Linked DNA regions of Homo sapiens: region 2 is linked to region 1. The links come from fine-mapping of genetic effects on gene expression. A gene starts in region 1. The other region holds a variant in brackets. All regions are shown on one strand. Distances are from middle to middle.

Region 1 (10,698 bases):
AGGCCTCCTAGGTACTAGGGTTTATGCAGCAGGGAATGTGATCACGGGGGAAGTGGTGAGTGGTGGCAGGGCAGGGGAGAAGCAGCGCCCAGCAAGTGTCCTTCTGACTTTCTGCTCAGCATGTTTGTTCTGTGGCTGGAAAGAATGAGTTACTAGACAAAACATATGAAGTACCTAGTACGCACCTAGCAGATGTTAGGTACAGACAAATCCCCATCACATCCCCCACCTCAGTGCTCCCAGGCTGGTACAACTTTTCTGAGCCTTGCAAAATACAGGTAAATATGTGGGTAAATATTAGTAGATTATCAAAGCACCTAGCACAGTGCACATAAATAGATGCTTAAATAAATAAAAATAAATTTTAAAAAAACACTAAATGACTCTGTCACCAGCCCATTCTCTTCCCCTACCCGATTCTAGGGGCACCTCTTAGGAAGGGCGCCCCTCTCTCTTCCCTGAACTCCGACCCTGTTTAATATAGTATGTTTACACTCTGCCTTCATCAGATGCTAGCCTGCCCAGTTTGCTATTGTGCTTTGTCCTGTTTCTCTTAGAAATCTGTGAGCTCCCCAGGGGTGGGAGCAGAACTTTGGCTCCATTCTCCCCCACACAGCAGAGAATTGACTTTCCGCTGGGCACAGGGGAGGCTCAGTCAACACTCTATCCCCATGTGGCTACGTTGGCTTAGAGGCACAGAATGGGAGAGAAGCAGGCTCTTGGCTGAGGAAAAGCCCTGGGCGAGCACTGAGGGAAGCTTGGCCTCAGACATAGCCAGCTGCCCTCTGGACCTCGCAGCCCTGCTGTGCCCAGCTCAGCTGCTGTGTCAGTGCAAAGCCAGGGTGACATCAGCTGTGGGAGAGGTTACTGTCAGGCAAAGGGAAGGCCAGGAGAGAGATGGCTGGCTGGGGCACGAGGCTAGAAGGACTCAGGAAACAGTTCCCTTGTAGGGGAAGCAGCAGCTTGGGAGGGGCAGTTGGGAGGAGAGAAGCAAAAGGGGTGAAGGGCCAGGAATGGCCAGGGCCTGCCTGTTCCTTTCACCTACAGCAGGGAGAGAGGCATGGGTTCAGAACTCTGGAAGAGAGTGTGACCTTCCTGGGAGCACTCTTAGCAACTGCAGGAAGCAAATGGGGATTTACCTCTCTACGACCAGGAAGGCAACACAGGAGCCGGGCACGGTGGCTCATGCCTGTAATCCCAACACTTTGGGGGGCTGAGGCGGGTAGATCACGAGGTCAGGAGTTCGAGACTGGCCTGGCCAGTATGGTGAAACCCCATCTCTACTAAAAATACAAAAGTTAGCCAGGAGGGGTGGCATGCACCTGTAATCCCAGCTACTTGGGAGGCTGAGGCAGGAGAATTGCTTGATTCTGGGAGGCAGAAGTTGCAGTGAGCCAAGACTGTACCACTGCACTCCAACCTGACAACAGAGCAAGACTCCGTCTCAAAAAGAAAAAAAAGAAAGAAAGAAAGAAAAAACGCGGGGGCAAGCTGCTCTTCTCTCTTTACTTTGGCTCAGAAGCTGAGTCAGGGCAAGAGAGACTTTCCCTTCAGCTTGTTTATTTGTTGTTGGAGGCCCTAGGCCTGTGTTTGCTTTTCCTCTCCATGTGTTCATCCTAGATGGCTTGCTCAGAATGGGGTAGCCTTCCAGGCTGGGGAAAGATCCCCTATGGGCCTCCAGAGGAGGGAGGGAGTAGTCTGTGGCCTGGGAAAAGGCATCTTTGTAAGGTCAGACCACTGCAGAAATCTCTGGCCCTGGTCCTGGTCCTAAGACATTTGTCCCCAGGCCTCATCTGCTGGGACTGTCAGTACCCATCTCACACATTCTGCCCTGAGACATAAACTGCTTCCAGTCACACGCACTATCTGATCTGAGGACGTACCCCAGGGCCCCAGGGATAGGTAACAATAAGTTGGTGGAGGCCCGTCCGCCAGTATGCATACCTGTGTGTGCAGACATTCCCGTGTGTGAGCACACACAGAAAGGGCTGGAGTGAGAGGAAGATCATGGCTCTGTGGATAGTGTGGAGAGACAGATGTCTGCCAACAGAGGGAGGTGTGGGGCTAGTGCACTGGCCTCTTCTCTACCGGGGAAAGACGTGCTACACCATCTATCCAGCCTGGGGCCCAGGAGGAGCCATATTCAAGGGTCCTCGTTCATAGTATATCAGGTCAGTCTTTTCCTCCTCTAGGTCTCTGAACTTGCCAACTGCCCTTCTCCACACTCACCCTTAATGGTCCCTTCGGATTTAGCACCGTCTCCTCCGGGAAGTCTTCTCTCGTTCTCTGGAGCTGGTCTGGAGTGTACCTTTCCTCTGGAGCCTATAGCTCAATCATCTAGAGTTATAAAGATACAGTGGCTGACGCCTGTAATCACAGCACTTTCGGAGGACAAGGCAGGTGGATCACTTGAGGTCAGGAGTTTGAGACCAGCCTGGCCAACATGGCAAAATCTCATCTCTACTAAAAATACAAAAATTAGCCGGGTGTGGTGGTGCACGCCTGTAATCCCAGCTCCTTGGGAGCTTGAGGTAGGAGAATTGCTTGAACCCCAGAGGTGGAGGTTGCAGTGAGCTGAGATCGTGCCACTGCACTCCAGCTTGGGCAACAGAGCAAGACTCCACCCCCACCCCCCAGGTTCAAGCGATTGTCCTGCCTCAGCCTGCCTCAGCCTCCCAAGCAGCTAGGATTATAGGTGCCCGCCACCACCCTGGGCTAATTTTTTGTATTTTTAGTAGAGACGGGGTTTCACCATGTTGCCCAGGCTGATCTGGAACTCCTGACCGCAGGCGATCTACCCGCCTCGGCCTCCCAAAAGTGCTAGCATTACAAGCGTGAGCCACCATGCCCAGTCTTTAGTTTTTTTTTTTTTTTATACTTTTCTTATTGAGATATAATTTATATACCATAGAATTCATCCATTTAAATCATACAATTTAATGGCTTTTAGTATATTCACAGGTTGTGCATCCATCACAATCCATTTTAGAACAGTTTTATTACTCCAAAAATAAACCCTGCATTCCTTAGCCATCACCCCCCAACATCCTCCATCCTCCTTCCAAGCCCTGGGCAACCACCAATCTACTTTCTGTCTCTATAAATTTGCCAATTCTGGACATTTCATATAAATGGAAGCAAACAACATGTGAGACTTTGTGACTGGCTGCTTTCACTTAGCATTCTATTTTTAAGGCTCATTATGTTACAGTACTTAGCAGTACTTCATTCTTTTTTATTCTCAAATGGTATTCCACTGTGTGGGTATCCCATATCATATTATTAGAGACAGGTTCTCACTCTGTCACCCAGGCTGGAGTGCAGTGGCACAATCATAGCTCACTGTAACCTCAAACTCCTGGGCTCAAGTGATCCTACTACCTCAGCCTCCAGAGTAGCTAGGACTACAGGCACACACAGCCATACCTGGCTAATTTTTTTTTTTAATTTTCATTTTATGTATTCATTTTCTTTCTTTTTTGTTGTTGTTGTTTTGAGATAGGGTCTCACTTTGTTACCCAGGCTGGAGGGCAGTGGCATGGTGACAGCTGAGCAGCCTTGACTTCCTGGGCTCAAGTGATCCTCCTGCCTCAGCCTCCCAAGTAGCTGGGACTACAAACACGTGTCACCATGCCTGGCTGATATTTTTTTTCTTGAAACAGGGTATCACTCTGTTGCCCAGGCTGGAGTACAGTGGCGTAATAATAGCTCACTGCAGCCTCCCCTCCTGGGCTCAAGCAATCCGCTGGCCTCAGCATCCTGAGTAGCTGGGACTACAGGCTTGTGCCACCAGGCCCAGCTAAGTTTTAAAAAATGATTTTTGGTATAGAGGAGGTCTTGCTATGTTGCTCAGGCTGTATTTTTATTGTTGAGACAAGGTCTCACTATGTTGCCATGATCCCCCCACCTCCACTTCCCAAAGTGCTCATCTTATCTGTTCATTAGTCAGTTGACAGACATTTAGGTTGTTTCCACTTTTTGACCATTATGAATAATACTCCAGTGAATATTCATGTATACATTTGTGTGGGCATATGTTTTCATTTCTGTTGGGTTTATATCTAGGAGTGGAATTGCTGGATCCCGGGTAATATTTTGACAGGCAGAGTTCAGGGGAAGAAAAACTTGGGAAAATGAAGCATGTTTAGAAATCAGCAAGAGTGCAGGGGTTTTTCGGAGTTTTATTTTATATTCTGTTGACAAATGTGCAGTTTGATGAAGATACAAGTTATACTAAGTGAGAAGTGAGAATTAAGGCTGGAATAGGGCGTTCAGAGTAAAATCATGAAGCACTTTGAATACCAAAATTAAGGAGCTTGGCTGTAAACAAAATAATAAAAAATCACAATTTTTTTTTTTTTTTTGAGAAAGAGTCTTGCTCTTTCACCCTGGCTGGAGGGCAGTGGTGTGATCTCAGCTCACTGCAACTTTCGCCTCCCGGGTTCAAGCAATTCTCCTGCTTCAGCCTCCCAAGTAGCTGGGACTACAGGCACTTCCCACCATGCCCAGCTGATTTTTGTATTTTTAGTAGAGATGGGATTTCACTTTGTTGGCCAAGCTGGTCTCAAACTTTTTGCTGTCATAATTGTTGTAACTATTGTTCCTTTTGCTGAGGTAGGGCCCCCAGACCAAAAAAAATAAATCTTAGAATCCAAATCAGTGTGTTGGTTTGACCACTGTCACTTGAGAACCACAGTGTGACCAGGGCCTCAGGAGTAGAGGTGATCTCTGCTCGAAAGAGAAATAGAATGAAAATATTCTCCGGGCCAGGCGTGGTGGCTCATGCCTGTAATCCCAGCACTTTGGGAGGCCAAGGCATGTGGATCACCTGAGGTCAGGAGTTCAAAACCAGCCTGGCCAACATGGTGAAACCCCGTCTCTACTAAAAATACAAAAAATTAGCTAAGTGTGGTGGCGCATGCCTGTAATCCCAGCTACTTGGGAGGGTGAGGCAGGAGAATTTCTTGAACCCGGGAGGCAGAGGTTGCAGTGAAGCGAGATCACACCACTGCACTCCAGCCTGGGGGAGAGAGCGAGACTTCCTCTCAAAAAAACAAAAAACAAAAGAATTAAGCAAATTAGACATTGCAGAGAGAACCTGAAGGGGGTCAGACCACGTACAGATTTCTGTGCCACATGCCAAGTACTTCTGAGGCATGACTGGATGAGCTGTCCACATCTGAAATCATCCAGTCTTGTTCAGAACTTTCACACCGGACAGGGAGCCAGGACTGGAATGCAGTCTCCTGGTCACTGGCCAGAGAGTTGGCCTGACCCTGAGACCAGTGGCCAACAAAGGAGCTGCTTAGTCTACCTCCCAGGAAATCCCAGGTGCTTGTCTTCCTGGGAAGTGAATCATTGGCGCAGCACTCCGTATTTTCTCCTCTTCCCAGGGGAAGGATCCTAGGGCAGTATTTGGGAAAGACATGGGCATGGAAGGACACCGGGTGAATGCATAGCCTGCCTGGTTCTGAGCTCTCATGGTAAGGCTCCTACAGACACGGAAAAGATGGGGGCACAGGGACAGATCAGTAGGGTCAGAGCATCTCAGGGACCGAGGGCAATATGGTCCTGAGCAGGGATTAAGAGCTTGGGCTCTCATATGGTGTTTCTGGGCTCAACTGCCAGCTCCATCACTTACTGGTTGCTGTGACCATGGGCAAGTTATTCCATCTCTCCATATCTCTTTCCTCACTTTTAAAATGGAATAATGGGGTACCCACCTCCCAGGGTCACAGAGAGGCTTACAGAAAACGATTCTTGTGAATTGGCTTGCAGTAATAATTCAATACCTGCCAGCTATTCTTATTCCACATCCAAGCCCTTTCGCCTGCTGCTGGGTGAAAACACATGTCAGTGTTTCCTGACGGTTTCCACAAAGAAGATTCCAAAATTACAACCTGCCAGTCTGAAGAATCTCCAAAACATCCCGCACGCATCCTGGAGGCGCGGGCTTGGGGATGGGACTGCCCGCCCGGGTCCTGAACAGGATGCGTGCGCGCAGGCACACACACACCAGCCAGCCTGTGTGTGCGGCCGGAGTCCGGTGCGGTCCCGGGTGAGCAGCGCGTGGCTGGTGGGCGGGGCAGAGCCATTGTTCGCAGGCGTACCGAGTCCCCCGCGCTCGCCCGGGAGGGAGGCGGGGCTTCCCGCGTCCCCCAAGCTCCAGATCCTGGGGTGGCTGCCACGTCTCCCTGCCACGCGCCTGGGGGGACGGAAGACGGGACGGAGATGTTAGTGGTGGGCGCCCCCCGAGGGTTCACCACTGTTTCCTGAGAAACTTCCCCAGTGCCCACCCACCCGTTCTCCGTGTGCCCGAGGGCCGGTCCTGGGCTAGGCTCCGCGCCCCAGCCCCAAACCGGGTCCCCAGCCCCTTCCAGAGAGAAAGCTCCCGACGCGGGATGCCGGGCAGAGGCCCAGCGGCGGGTGGAAGAGAAGCTGAGAAGGAGAAACAGAGGGGAGGGGGAGCGAGGAGCTGGCGGCAGAGGGAACAGCAGATTGCGCCGAGCCAATGGCAACGGCAGGACGAGGTGGCACCAAATTCCCTTCGGCCAATGACGAGCCGGAGTTTACAGAAGCCTCATTAGCATTTCCCCAGAGGCAGGGGCAGGGGCAGAGGCCGGGTGGTGTGGTGTCGGTGTCGGCAGCATCCCCGGCGCCCTGCTGCGGTCGCCGCGAGCCTCGGCCTCTGTCTCCTCCCCCTCCCGCCCTTACCTCCACGCGGGACCGCCCGCGCCAGTCAACTCCTCGCACTTTGCCCCTGCTTGGCAGCGGATAAAAGGGGGCTGAGGAAATACCGGACACGGTCACCCGTTGCCAGCTCTAGCCTTTAAATTCCCGGCTCGGGGACCTCCACGCACCGCGGCTAGCGCCGACAACCAGCTAGCGTGCAAGGCGCCGCGGCTCAGCGCGTACCGGCGGGCTTCGAAACCGCAGTCCTCCGGCGACCCCGAACTCCGCTCCGGAGCCTCAGCCCCCTGGAAAGTGATCCCGGCATCCGAGAGCCAAGATGCCGGCCCACTTGCTGCAGGACGATGTGAGTTTCCCAGCCTGGCCCCGTACCGCCGGGTCGCAGGCGCGGGCTGGGCTTCCAGGGGACGGGTTGGTGGCAGAAGAGAGGGGAGAGCTCCGCGGAGGACTTGGTCATCTTTTTCGAGTTGTGCTGCCTTCCGTGAGTTGGGAATGTGGATTGTAATTTGGGGACTTGAGTCTCCAACTTTAGTTTCTTAAGCTTTAAAGAAAAATCCGGTCGTGCTGGTGCTTTTATGAATTATGCGGGTTTTCCTTTGTCTTCGTGGGGATGTGAGTGCTTTACTTCTCCTTCCTACTGCCGCCTCCCGATAGGTTTCGCGCCCCTCGTCCCCCTCGCCCTCCGCCCCTAATGTATCTGTACAGTTTCAGGGAACTTTTCTCCGTTGCGTCTCGGATACACCCTACCCTCAGTGAACTACGGCGCTGCGGAAGGGTCCGTACTGTCCACCCTTCCCCCAGCGTGATTAGAGAGCGGAGTGGCCCCAGCTGCCTCCACGTGTCTCTTCTCCTGACTCTCCTCTTCCTCCCCCTTCCAGATCTCTAGCTCCTATACCACCACCACCACCATTACAGCGCCTCCCTCCAGGGTCCTGCAGAATGGAGGAGATAAGTTGGAGACGATGCCCCTCTACTTGGAAGACGACATTCGCCCTGATATAAAAGATGATATATATGACCCCACCTACAAGGATAAGGAAGGCCCAAGCCCCAAGGTTGAATATGTCTGGAGAAACATCATCCTTATGTCTCTGCTACACTTGGGAGCCCTGTATGGGATCACTTTGATTCCTACCTGCAAGTTCTACACCTGGCTTTGGGGTAAGCAGCCTCCCTGTCCTCCTGACCTAGTCCTCCAGGTACTCACTGCTCTTTTAATAAGGTAGGATCTTACAGAGGACACCAGCCCCTCCCAGCCTCCCGGTTGGGGTTTTTCTCAGGCATTTCTCTTTGGTTGCTTCAGGCCTAGTGGGCTGGGAAGAACCTGGGGGTACTGAGATGCAGGACTGTCAATGCTGGGGGTTGAGAGCTTTGGAACCTTGTGCTTGTGGGCTTTGAAGTGTGCTGTGCTGGAGAGTCAGCTTTCCCTGAAAGAGCTTTTCTGTTTGAGTCATTTGCTTGGCTGCCTGTCCCACCCCTGCCAGCCACAAAAGAATCAAACCCCTCTACCTGGGAGGCATGGGAACATGGTACTAAACCATTGGCTTTCTAGGGTTTGTGTTGAGCAATCATAGGCTAGCACAAGGGAAACTACTCAGGGAGAGAGTTTATTGGAAAGGGAGGAGAGAGCTCATTGGAAAGAGAGGAAAAGAGAGGTTGTTATCCACAAAACTATTTTGACCTGACCCCTTGGCCAGACCAGGCTTCTTCGTTACAGAGGAAGATGAAGCTCCCGTGCAACCCAAGTCACACAGGTGTGTGTTGCTCTGTTACTCTACATTCCAGGGTGCTGCACATACCAGTCAACAAAATGCTCTTAGAATGAAATCAGGCTGAAGATATGTTTCATGTTCCATCCCCCGTCCAGCCTGCTTCAGGCCCCCCTACTGATGCCATGAAGTGCCAAGAATTCTGCACCTTCCAACACCAGTCCTACCCATCCCTCCTTGCCAGGGACATCGAGGCCAGGCCAGAAAAGAGAGCCCGGTCTTGAGGCTGCTGTAATGAGGGAGACAGTTCCCAGTTTGTCCCCGACCTGCCCTTAGCTCAGCTCTTTCAGGGACCTGTTGGTGTGGCCTGATGGCATGGCCCTGCCCCCTGGATACACACATGCGCTTTGCAGGCTTTTTCACCTCTGTCACTATGAGCCTAAGTTGGGAAGGGAAAGCAGGGAGCTCTGCAGATCCAGGGGCCCTGCACTGCTACTCTCTAAGGGGTGGTGAGCCAGGACTTCTGGTGTGGGAAACTTTCTGACAGCTCGCTCTTGAAGGGTAGTTATGCAGAAGGGCTGGTAGGCCAAGTTTTAGCTGTTTCCCTCAGGACCTCTTAGGTCTTCTGAAGATGGTGAGATCTGGTTCATTGAGCTTTTGTTTCCAGAAATCCTCCAGGTGCTACAGTGAAATGCAACTGAGAAGAGCCCCTTTGTCAGGATCTCAGTTTTTCTAGGTACCACCTGTGGGCAACAGTACTTTTTTAGGATGGGGAAGGTAGCATTCCTTGGGTTACATATGTGTCACAGCCGCAGAGACAGAACAGGCCAGGTGCAGATCAGTTCATCTGCATACCAGGAAGAGCTCTTGTATTTGTGAGGGGAGGGCGACATCTGTTGTCTAGCCCCTCTGAGGATCCAGCAGAACTTCAGTTGCAGCTGAGGGATGAGGAGCAGGGATAGCATTCCCCAGGCAGTCTGTGGATGCCTCTCTCCACCCTTTCTCCCCAAGAGGATAGTCTTCACAAGTAGTTTTCTCTCCTGCAAGCTCCTTCCAGCCTCAGCACCCCCTGTAGGTTTCCTGAAGCCCAGAGTTTGACCCGATTGCCTCTGCTTGGTTATCCTCAGTTGCTACTGCAAGGAGCAGAATTCCATCCCAAAGTGAAGGCTGTGCCTGCTACATTTTTTTGGTGACCTGCCCATGGGTGTGTGCTGTGCCCTTGGGCAGATAAATGTGGCTCACAGAGACTAGATGGTAACTTATTTTACTGGGCCCTTTGGTGGATGGCTTAGCTGAAAGAATGACCATGTCGATGTGGGGATATCAGAACTCCTCTGTCTTGAGAAACAAGGAGGGTGAGGGGAGGAGGGTCAGAGGTCTCAACTTGGACATCTTCTCTTCCCACCTTCAGAATTTAGGAGCTTCACCTTTCTTGTTTTAATCCCTATGGACAATGTTAAATTAGCAACTGGTCGTGATTCCAGCATTTCTTATGACTGAGCACTTTTGAGAGCCTTAAATCTCTTTCATTTTGGAGTCTCCCAAAGAAGCCCTTAGGAGAATGCCTCTGGCAACACTGAGAGCCAGAGGCAAAACCATTCAAGTCTCTTTCTTAAGGCCAGAGCAATGAGATGTTGCTTAACCATCAATCTGGACATTTTCCTCCCCTGGGGAGGAGAGAAGGAATAAATCTCCAACTGATTTAAGCCCTTCTATTTGATAGGCTTAGAGGTGTTTCTAGAAAAGGCACCAGAGTGCCTGAGTTCTTTCCCCAATTTCCCTGTTAATATAGGATCTTATATACGTTCTGAGTCAACACTGCCCTAGGGTCTTGCAGCAAATAACAACCCTAGAAGCTCCCTTGCTCATTAGAGAGAGCTCTGGCTCAACTGATGGTTTCCCGAGTAAGATGCAGGTAGATACTGTATCTGGGGAGATGTCAGTCACCACTTGGCTTGAGGGCAGATCACCTGGGGCCTCAGTCCCCACTCTGAGGGAATGTGGAGAGAGCTCTTGTTGGGGCTGACTGGCTCTGTGGCTCTCCTGGAGATCTTATAGGAGGAATAGAAGAGAAGAAAGGAGGTAGGGTTGGGGGGAAAAGGAGGTTGTTTAGGAAACAGCTATCAATGGCTGCAAAAGAACACAGGACAATTTGTTACAATGTGTGGTGTCTCCAACTGCAACTAAGTTCTGTGGCCACTGAGGATCTATTGTTTCTAGCTGTTTCCCTAGGAATGAAACATTGTTAAGAGTTTCTATCAAGGCCACAGCTTCTGCCTGCTAGAGCTACTGAACAGAG
Region 2 (10,698 bases), 47 kb after region 1:
TGACCTCACGATCCGCCCACCTCAGCCTCCCAAAGTGCTGGGATTACAGGCGTGAGCCACTATGCCCGGCCCTCTAATCCTTCTTTAACAAACAACTGCTGGCTTTGCATTTCTCTTTCCTCCAAAATCGCCAAGGCCTCGACTTACTCACTGCTAAAAAAAGAGGACCCTGTATATTTTTAAACGAAGAGTGTTGTTTTTACCTAAATCAATCTGGCCTGGTGTATGACAACATAAAAAAACTCAAGGATAGACCCCAAAAATTCGCCAACCAAGCAAATAATTATGCTGAACCCCCTTGGGCACTCCCTAATTGGATGTCCTGGGTCCTTCCAATTCTTAGTCCTTTAATACCTATTTTTCTCTTTCTCTTATTCGGACCTTGTGTCTTCCTTCTGTTTAGTTTCTCAATTCATACAAAACTGCATCCAGGCCATCAACAATCATTCTATACGACAAATACTCCTTCTAACAAGCCCACAATATCACCCCTTATACCCAAATCTTTCTTCAGTTTAATCTCTCCTACTCTAGGTTCCCATGCCACCCCAATCCCACTCAAAGCAGCCCCGAGAAACATCGCCCATTATCTCTCCATACCACCCCCAAAAATTTTCGCTGCCTCAACACTTCACCACTATTTTGTTTTGTTTTTCATACTAATATAAGAAGATAGGAGTGTCAGGCCTCTGAGTCCAAGCTAAGCCATCAAATCCCCTGTGACCTGCACGTGTACATCCAGATGACCTGAAGCAACTGAAGATCCACAAAAGAAGTGAAAGTAGCCTTAACTGATGACATTCCACCATTGTGATTTGTTCCTGCCCCACGCTAACTGATACCATATATTCTTCCCCCGCCCTTGAGAATGTACTTTGTACACCTATCCCAAACCTATAAGAACTAATGATAATCCTACCACCCTTTGCTGACTCTCTTTTTGGACTCAGCCCGCCTGCACCCAGGTGAAATAAACAGCCCTGTTGCTCACACAAAGCCTGTTTGGTGGTCTCTTCACAAGGACGTGCGTGACACTACACTTGTTGAGTTTTAGTGTAGTATCAAAGAAGAATATCCACAATTATCTATTGAAATCCTTCTCCCTGTGGTGGCTCACATGTATAATCCCAGCACTTTGGGAGGCCAAAGTGGATGGATCACTTGAGTCCAGGAATTCAAGACCAGCCTGGACAACATGGTGAAACTTCATCTTTACCAAAATACAAAAATTAGTTGGGCGTGGTGGCATGTGCATGTATTCCTAGCTACTTGTGAGGCTGAAGCAGGAAGATCGCTTGAGCCTGGGAGGCAGAGGTTGCAGGAAGCCGAGATTGGCCCACTGCACTCCAGCCTGGGTGACAGAGTGAGACTCTATCTCAAAAAGAAAAAAAAAAATCCTCCTCCCTTTTCCAACTACATATTTGAATGAGATTAGATTTTCTTCATCTATTTCAACCAAACAACATATGGCAATAGATATGAGAATCCAGCTGTCTTCTATTAAGTCAGACATTAATGAGATTAGTAAAAATGTAGAATGACTCTCATCTCACTAAATATTTGTTTGCTTTGGAAAATAGTTATTTTCCTTTAAAAAACTGTTATAATAGTAATAGGTTTTTATTGTTATTTTATCTGTTTTTTTTTTTTTTTGGAGACATCTCTTTCTGTTGCTCAGGCTTGAATGGAGTGGCCTGAACACAAATCACTGAAGCCTCAACTTCCCAGGCCCCAGCAATCCTCCCGCCTCAGCCTCCCAAGTAGCTGGGATCACAGGTGTGTGCCACCAAGCCTGGCTAATTTTTAAAATTTTTTTTTGTAGATATGAGATCACACTATGTTGCCCAGGCTGGTCTCAAACTCCTGGACTCAAGCGATCTTCCCACCTCAGCCTCCCAAAGTGCTGGGATTACAGGCGTGAGCCACCACACCTCGCTGCTAGTATCTTTTGAAGCATTAAACTTTTTAATTTTGATGCAGTCCAGTTATCCATTTTTTATTTTGTTTCTTGTGCTTTTGGTGTCACATTAAAGAAGCCATTGTTTCAAGGTCACAAAGATTTACACTTAGTTTTCTTTTAAGAGTTTTATAATTACAGCTCTTACATTTAGGTCTTCGATCCCTTTTGATTTCATTTTTGTATGTAGTGTGAGGTACCTAAATAATTTTAAGGATATAAAGGGGTTGAGAGCTAAACGTTTGAGAATCACTGCTTTAACTTCTCTCAGCCTCAGTTTTCTCATCTTTAAAATGATAACTGGCCGGGCTTGGTGGCTCATGCCTGTAATCCCAGCACTTTGGGAGGCTGAGGCAGGCAGATCATTTGATGCCAGGAGTTCGCAACCAGCCTGGCCAACACAGTGAGACCCCATCTCTACTAAAAATATGGAAATTAGGCAGGTAGGGTGGCACGCACCTGTAATCCCAGTTACTTGGGAGGCTGAGGCAGGAGAATCACTTGAACCCAGGAGGCAGAGGTTGCAGTGAGCCAAGATTGCGCCACTGCACTCCAGCCTGGGCGACGGAGTGAGACTCTGTCTCAGAAATTAAAAAATAAATAAATAAAATGATAACTGTATTTGACTTACTACCTCATAGGGCAGCTATGAAGTAAAAAGAGGTCGTATAAATGAAAGACATAATAAAGCACTATTGAAATGTAAGTGATCATCACTGCTATTATTTTTATGTATATGTTGTCTGTCCAACCTGTTCAAAGATCCTTGGGTTTTTCCTTTTGTTCTACTGCCACAGCCCCTTCCTCATACTAGACACATAGCAGATCCTCAGTAAATATTTATTTGTGAACTGATAGATGCACTCAGTCTTGCCTGTGTTGTCAGAAGTAAAAAGAGAAGTATTTACATTTTGGTAGTCACTCCCTAGCCACTTCCTGCTCTCAACTCCTTAAGCCTAAAAAACTAATAAAAATAAAAATAAAAATAAAAAAACAACTTGTTAAGTTTGTAGTCAGCCAAGACTCATAGCCTTTTTCACTTGAACTGTTAAGCTAAGTCTTCCTTATCCTATGTTGGTGAAATTAATATTTTGAACATAAGCATGGGACTTTAAATGTATCCCTGGTTGGCCAGGTGCAGTTCATCACGCCTGTGATTGCAGCCCTTTGGGAGGCCAAGGCAGGTAGATCATGAGGTCAGGAGATCGAGACCATCCTGGCTAACACAGTGAAACCCTGTCTCTACTAAAAATACAAAAAATTAGCCGGGCAGGGTGGCATGCGCCTGTAGTCCCAGCTACTCGGGAGGCTGAGATAGGAGAATGGCTTGAACCCAGGAGGCGGAGGTTGCAGTGAGCTGAGATTGCGCCACTGCACTCCAGCCTGGGCGACAGAGCAAGACTCCATCTCAATAAATATATATATTATATATATATATATATATATATATATATATATTTCCCTGGTAAATTTCATTTATTTGTTAATTCTAACTTTGGAACCTATTGAGAGCTTTATGAATCCCAATTCAGTCTTCCAAGATATTAAATATCTCTTCTAGCTTTATTTAGTGGAAAATAGCATAAGCATGCCTTCTTTATCACAGATAAGAGGGTTGTCTAGGTCAGAGACAAGGACAAAGTGAAACGTTTTGTTTTGAACTAATCTGAAATGAGACATTCTTCTCCCTTGAGTACTATGCAGTGAGTGGATGAGCACGCCTGGTTTACCAAGGTCATTCCATCTTTGTTCCCCAAACAGTTCCTTATTTATGTCATGGACCAGCCTTAGAATCAGAGCCAGTAGAATAGCCAGTGAAGGAAAAGGAAAAATATTGTAGAATTTGTTAGGTAAAGGTAATATTCTTCACCAAAAAAAAAAAAAGCACAGCTAATAGTACCTCTGCCTTTTATCCTCAGTGAAGGCAAGAGAGTGAGGTGAAAGGGTAACAACATAGTTTGTTACCCAAGTGTTAAAAAACTTGGCAAGTGTGAGTGCTACCAAAGGCAGATGGACCCCAAGGCCATTCTAGCAATGAACGGAGGAAAACCTCAAGAAAGGAGCAGAAGGTGTGTTTAGAATCATGGGTTTTGGAATCAAGATGTTCAGTGGAATGTAAGGAAGAAGAAACACATTAGGATTGAGTCAGTCTGGTTTTGGTATTTGTAATTTCAGTAGAAAAATCTTTAACTTGCCTAGAGAGAAGTAATCTAGTGTTAATGGGCTGCTGACTCGGGCTTCTAACAAGAGCCTGACAGGGCAGATCCAGACTCAACCAATGTCTCCCTTCTGCTCTTGTCAGCACCCTTGTTTGAGTGCGGGGCTGGGGGAAGATTGGTGGGATATCACATAAGACAATGTCAGAGAAATAGATTGGGGGTGGGGGCCTCCCATGGGCTCTGTTCACTTGGAAAAGTCTCCTATAGTCTCTTTGTATTTTGTTCTTATTTTATATCTAAGTTATACTTGTACATGATTTAAAGAGTTAAATGGCCTTATAAGGCTTTTCCCCATCCCCCCCACTCCCCAACCCCTGCCATACGGCTTGTTTTGAAATAGCAGTGCCCTGGCCTCCTCTCCTCACCATTTTCAGCTCCTCAAAGGTAACCACTTTCAACTTCTCTTAATGGAACCTTCTGGCATTTACCTCTGTATCTCTAAATGACTTATCTCTAAAGGCTTATATGACTACGTATTAACTTAAACATGTTTACATTATTTATGAACTTCTCACCAGAGAAGATGAGAATTTTATCTTTTTCACCATCACCAGTGCCATCCCTACCACATCCTCACTCATTCACATAGTATCTGCATGCTTCACTTTCTCTGTCCTCTCAATACACTTGTGTTGTAAAAAATTTGGTTAATTAAATAGTGTTGGCCGGGTGTGGTGGCTCACACCTGTAATCCCAGCACTTTGGGAGGCTGAGGCAGGTGGATCACGGTGGTCAGGAGCTCAAGACCAGCCTCGCTTGAGCTAAAAATACAAAATTACTAAATTTTTGTACTAAAAATACAAAAATTAGCCGGGCGTGGTGGCGGTGCCTGTAATCCCAGCTACTAGGGAGGCTGAGGCAGAGAATTGCTTGAACCCGGGGAGC[G/A]GAGGTTGCAGTGAGCTGAGATCACGCCACTGCACTCTGGCCTGGGAGTCAGAGCAAGACTCTGTCTCCAGGAAAAAAAAAAAAAAAAAGTCAGTGTTTATATTGCTGTGACTATGCAAATATTGTTCACAAATAAGCGAAGTAATGTACCCAAGTAAGCTGAGTAATGTTTCTCTCTTGCATAACTTTTTGTGCTTTTTGGACCTAATAGTTGTATTTTTCTATGTACTTAATATATTAATTTAACTCAACCTCCGCCCCAGTTGTCTACATCTCTTCTCAATACACTTGGTCACATCAGATATTTTTTCAATTTCATTTTCTTGAAGAAATCTCTCCTGGAGCCCCCTCACATGCTCCAATCTGGACTGGTTACTCTCTCAACCTGTTGCATACATAATTTTTGTCCTGGGAATTCTCTTCAGCCTTGTTCTCTCCTGTGTTAGATCCCCTGTTCCTGGATCCTTTGTGTTCCTCTTTCTTGATTTACTCCCTTGCTTTGGATAAACCCATTCTATTTTTTTTTTTTTTTTTTTTGGGACAGAGTCTCACTATGTTGCCCAGGCCGGAGTGTGCTGTGCTGGCGTGATCTCGGCTCACTGTAACCTCTGCCTCCCAGGTTCAAGTGATTCTCGTGCCTCAACCTGTAGCTGGAACTATAGGCATGCACTACTACGCTGGGCTAATTTTTGCATTTTTAGTAGAGACGGGGTTTCACAGTGTTGGCCAGGCTGGTCTCAAGCTCCTGGCCTGAAGTGATCTGTCTGCCCTGGCCTCCCAAATTGCTGGGATTAGAGGTGTGGGTCCCCGCGCCCAGCTGAGAAACTCATTCTTTATTAGTCTTGTGAAAAAGGCATATTTTAAAGATATTCTCTTTGTTCTTGGTTTCCCAAAATTTCATGATGATGTGCTTTGGTATGGATCCATTTCCATCCATTATCAAAGACGTTTCCTAGTCCATTTCAATCTAGAAATGCTTTTCCTTCATTTCTGAGGATGTTTTTTGATTCATTGATGATTTCATCTTCCTCTTCCATTTTCTTTGTTCTTTCTTGAGTCTTCAGAATTGATTCTCTATTTTTAAAAGTTCCTATATTATTTTCCATGCCTTTTACTTTCGCTTGGCTTTCTAGATTCCCTGAACTTCATCTTACAAACCTTCTATTGAGTTGGGTTTTTTTTGTTTTGTTTTTTGGTTTTTTTTTGAGATGGAGTTTCGCTCTTGTCGCCCAGGCTGGAGTGCAGTGGCACGATCTCGGCTCACTGCAACCTCCGCCTCCCAGGTTCAAGTGATTCTCCTGTGTTAGCCTCCCGAGTAGCTGGGATTATAGATGCCCGCCACCTCGCCCGGCTAAGTTTTGTATTTTTAGTAGAGACGGGTTTCACCATGTTGGCCAGGCTGGTCTTGAACTCCTGACCTCAGATGATCCACCTGCCTCGGCCTCCCAAAGTGCTGGGATTACAGGCGTGAGCCACCACACCCAGCCCTATTGAGTTTTTAAGACCTGTTATCATACTTTAATTTTCAAAGATTCTGCTAGAATGTTTCCTTTTTACTGTATCTTGTCTGCTTCCATGGATGCAATATTTTCTGGGTTTTGTGTTTTGTTTTGTTTTGTTTTTTAGAGGCAGGGTCTTGCTTTATTGCCCAGGCTGATCTTGAATTCCTAGCTTCAAGCAATCCTCTATCTAGCCTCAGCCTCCCAAGGTGCTGAGATTATAGGTGTGAGCCAAAACACCCAGCCTGCAATATTTTCTTATTCCTTTAAGAATATTAGTGATTAGTTGGGGAATATTTTTCTTTCCCTACAAAGTCTCTTGCCCTCCAAGTTTTTTCTGTCCTGTTTTCTGTTTTGGCAGATTTGTTTCTGCAGATAATGAATGATCCTTGGCTATCTGTTTATGTATAACAATGCGGCACCAAAAAGCCAGCTGGAGGCTCTGCACATGTGGTAGGCCACATTCAGTATGAGCACATCTCTGTCTTTCTGACTGGATGGTTTCTTAGAGTAATTCCCAATACTAGTATCACAGTTTTTTTGTTTATTTGTTTTGTTTTTGTTTTGAGACAGGATCTCGCTCTGTTGCCCAGGCCCCAGGCTGGAGTGTAGTGGCGTGATCACAGCTCACTGCAACCTCCACCTCCCGGGTTCAAGAGATTCTTGTGCCTCAGCCTCCCAAGTAGCTGGGGTTACAGGTCTGTGTCACCATGCTGGCTAGTTTTGTTTGTTTGTTTGTTTGTTTTGAGATGGAGTCTCGCACTGTTGCCAGGCTGGAGTGCAGTGGTGCAATCTCGGCTCACTGCAACCTCTGCTCCCAGGTTCAAGCGATTCTCCTACCTCAGCCTCTCGAATAGCTGGGACTACAAGTGCACACCACCACGCCCAGCTAATTTTTGTATTTTTAGAGACAGGGTTTCACCATGTTGGCCAGGATGGTCTCCATCTCTTGACCTCGTGATCCGCCCACCTTGGCCTCCCAAAGTGCTGGGATTACAGGTGTGAGCCACTGCGCCCAGCCTAGTTTTTGTATTTTTAATAGAGGTAGGGTTTCACCATGTTGCCCAGGCTTGTCTTGAACTCCTGGCCTCAAGTGATCTGCCTGCTTTGGCCTCCCCAAGTGCCCTAGGATTGTAGGCGTGAGCCACTGCATCCTGCCTATATCATAGCTTTTTTTCTTTTAGGTTGTCAGAATCTGCAGAGAAGCTTCCTCCAATCTCCAGCCTGAGAGTTCAGGCCTGGTTACCAGCATTCTAGAAGCTGAAAGAGGAGAAGTTCTTGGAAGACTAAGAAGTCCAACATTCGGTATACAAATATTAGTCTTTAGCCTTTGCTCTTTTTTTCTATAATACCGTGTAGTTTCTGTCTCCTGAATGGACCCAGACTGATGCTATAACTCAGCCTTTAACTGATTCTGGTATTCCCCAGTCAAGAGATCCTTGATTTCACTCTTTCTGATGAATCGACCTCCAGTGTTTTACCTGGAGTCAGGAGAACTAACAATTTCTTCAACAATTATTCTATTCTTAGCCATACCTTCCCCTTTCTCCTCCCCTTCCAAAGGTAGCTGGGGCCACCAAATCTTGAACCTTTGTGGGTTCTTTGGTGTAAACTACTTTGCTTTTGGCTACCCCCGCTGCCTGCTGAAGCTTCAGCTTTCCAGGTTCTACTAAGACAGCTATTACTCATAATCTGTTTTCCACCTTCCAAAATTTTATTGTGGTCTCTTCCCCATTCTTTTGTCCTTGTGGGATTATACCTCTCAAAAACCCTTTACTGTTATTTTACTATAGTTTGGGGAGGGAGCAAATGCATGTGTTCAAAATGTCTTCTTTATCCTGAATCTCTCTCTCAGAACCTATTTATCCTGCACATATTTACTGGGTGCCTCATCAGGGTAGGTACTATTCAAATATTTGGATACATTAGGGAACAGAATAGAATATCCTTACACTTGTGGGGTTTACATTCTAGTGTGTGTACGCACAACAGAGGAACAGATTATAAAAATTAAATCTAAGTATGTAGATTAAAAAAAAATTTTTTTTGAAACAGTCTTTCTCTGTCGCCCAGGGTGGAGTACAGTGGTACAATCTTGGTTCACTGCAACCTCTGCCTCCCGGGTTCAAGGGATTCAAGTGATTCTTGTGCCTCAGCCTCCTGAGTAGCTGGGACTGCAGGCATGCACCACCACACCCAGCTAATTTTTGTAGTTTTAATAGAGATGGGGTTTTGCCATGTTGCTCAGGCTGGCCTTGAACTCCTGGCCTCAAGTGATCCACCTGCCTCAGCCTCCTAAAGTGCTGGAATTAAGGCGTGAGCCACTGCGCACGGCCCAATATGTAGATTATATAGTAAGTATTAGATAGATAAGGTTTATTTATTTATTTATTTCTGAGACGGAGTCTCGCTCAGTTACCCAGGCTGGAGAGCAGTGGCGCGACCTCAGCTCACTGCAACCTCTGCCTTCTGGGTTCAAGCAATTCTCCTGCCTTAGCCTCCTGAGTAGCTGGGATTACAGGTGCCGTCACCACACCCAGCTAATTTTTGTATTTTTAGTTGAGACAGGGTCTCATCATGTTGGCCAAGCTGGTTTCAAACTCCTGACCTCAGGTGATCCACCTGTCTCAGCCTCCCAAAGTGCTGGGATTACAGGCGTGAACCACTGCGCCCAGCAGATAAGGTTTAAAAGCACTATGAAAAAAAGTAGGGCCAAGTGCTGTGGCTCATGCCTGTAATTTCAGTACTTTGGGAGGCTGATGTTGAAGGACTGCTTGAGGCCAGGAGTTAGGGACCAGCCTGAGTAACATAGCAAGACTCCATCTCTATTATAAAAAAACAGAAAGAGAGAGAGAAATGGTACAGCAGGAAATGCTGAATCAGGAGTAATGGGCAGGTGGTAGGCTGCAGTATTTAACAGAATGATCAGGCTGGGCGCAGTGGCTCATGTCTATAATCCCAGCACTTTGGGAGGCTGAGGCAGGCAGATCATTTGTGGTCAGTTCGAGACCAGCCTGGCCAACATGGCGAAACCCGTATCTACTAGTAATACAAAAATTAGCTGGGTATGGTGGCAGGTGCCTGTAATCCCAGCTGCTCGGGAGGCTGAGGCAGGAGAAGCACTGGAACCTGGGAGGTGGAGGTTGCAGTGAGCCGAGATCATGCCACAGCACTCCAGCCTGGGTGACAGAGTGAAACTGAGTCTCAAAAATAATAATAATAATAATAATAGAAGGATCAAAGTAAGTATCATTGAAGAAGCAAAATTTGAGCAAAGATTTGAGGGAACTGCAACTGTAAATATATATATTTCTATTATTTTTTGTTTGTTTGTTTCTATTTTCAGTTTTCTTTAAAATACATATATTTCTGGCCGGGCGCCGTGGCTCACCCCTGTAATCCCAGTGCTTTGAGAGGCCGAGGCAGGCGGATCATGAGGTCAGGAGTTCAAGGCCAGCCTGGCCAACATGGTGAAACCCCGTTTCTACTAAAAGAAAATACAAAAAATTAGCTGGACGTGTTGGCAGGCACCTGTAATCCCAGCTACCTGGGAGGCTGAGGCAGGAGAATTGCTTGACCCCGAGAGATGGAGGTTGCAGTGAGCCGAGATTGTGCCATTGCATTCCAGCCTGGACAATAGAGCAGGACTCTGTCTCAAAAAAAAAAATTTTTTTTTTTTTAAAGAAGAAGGAAAAAATATATAACTTTTGTTTGTTTGTTTGTTTCTGAGACAGGGTCTCACTCTGTTATCCAGGCTGGAGTGCAGTGGCACCATCAGGGCTCACTGCAGCCTCCACCTCCCGGGCTCAAGTGATCTTCCCACCTCAACCCCCTGAGTAGCTGGGACTACAGGCGCATGCCACCACACCTGGTGAATTTTTTCTTTTTTAAGTAGAGATGGGATTTTGCCATGTTGCCCAGGTTGGTCTTGAACTTCTGGACTCAAGCAATCCACCCACCTTGGCCTGCCAAAGTGCTGGAATTACAGGCATGAGCCACCACACACACCCATCTTTAAATGGTCTTTTTATTTTTTTATTTTTATTTTTATTTTTTTGAGATGGAGTCTCACTCTGTCGCCCAGGCTGGAGTGCAGTGGTGCGATCTCGGCCCACTGCAAGCTCTGCCCCCCGGGTTC

The links. PIP is the estimated chance that this variant, and not a neighbour inherited with it, causes the effect. A credible set is the group of variants that fine-mapping cannot tell apart.
Region 2: its variant is the best candidate, but not a certain one, in a credible set for the expression of SCD in whole blood (TOPMed, PIP 0.90).

The regions. Positions count from the first base shown.
Region 1 is chr10:100,340,496-100,351,193 of GRCh38, forward strand. SCD (stearoyl-CoA desaturase) reads left to right here and starts at 6,738. Exons shown (of 6, transcript NM_005063.5): 1 at 6,738-7,036; 2 at 7,569-7,851. The coding sequence starts at 7,010. RefSeq lists enhancers at 1,937-2,231, 6,173-6,764, 6,413-6,482, 6,863-7,102 and silencers at 6,003-6,382, 6,583-6,632.
Region 2 is chr10:100,387,365-100,398,062 of GRCh38, forward strand. OLMALINC (oligodendrocyte maturation-associated long intergenic non-coding RNA) reads left to right here. Exons shown (of 3, transcript NR_026762.1): 3 at 673-990. Among named protein-coding and RNA genes, the nearest start is that of OLMALINC, 19 kb to the left of the region's middle. The variant G/A (reference allele first, on the strand shown) is at 5,062.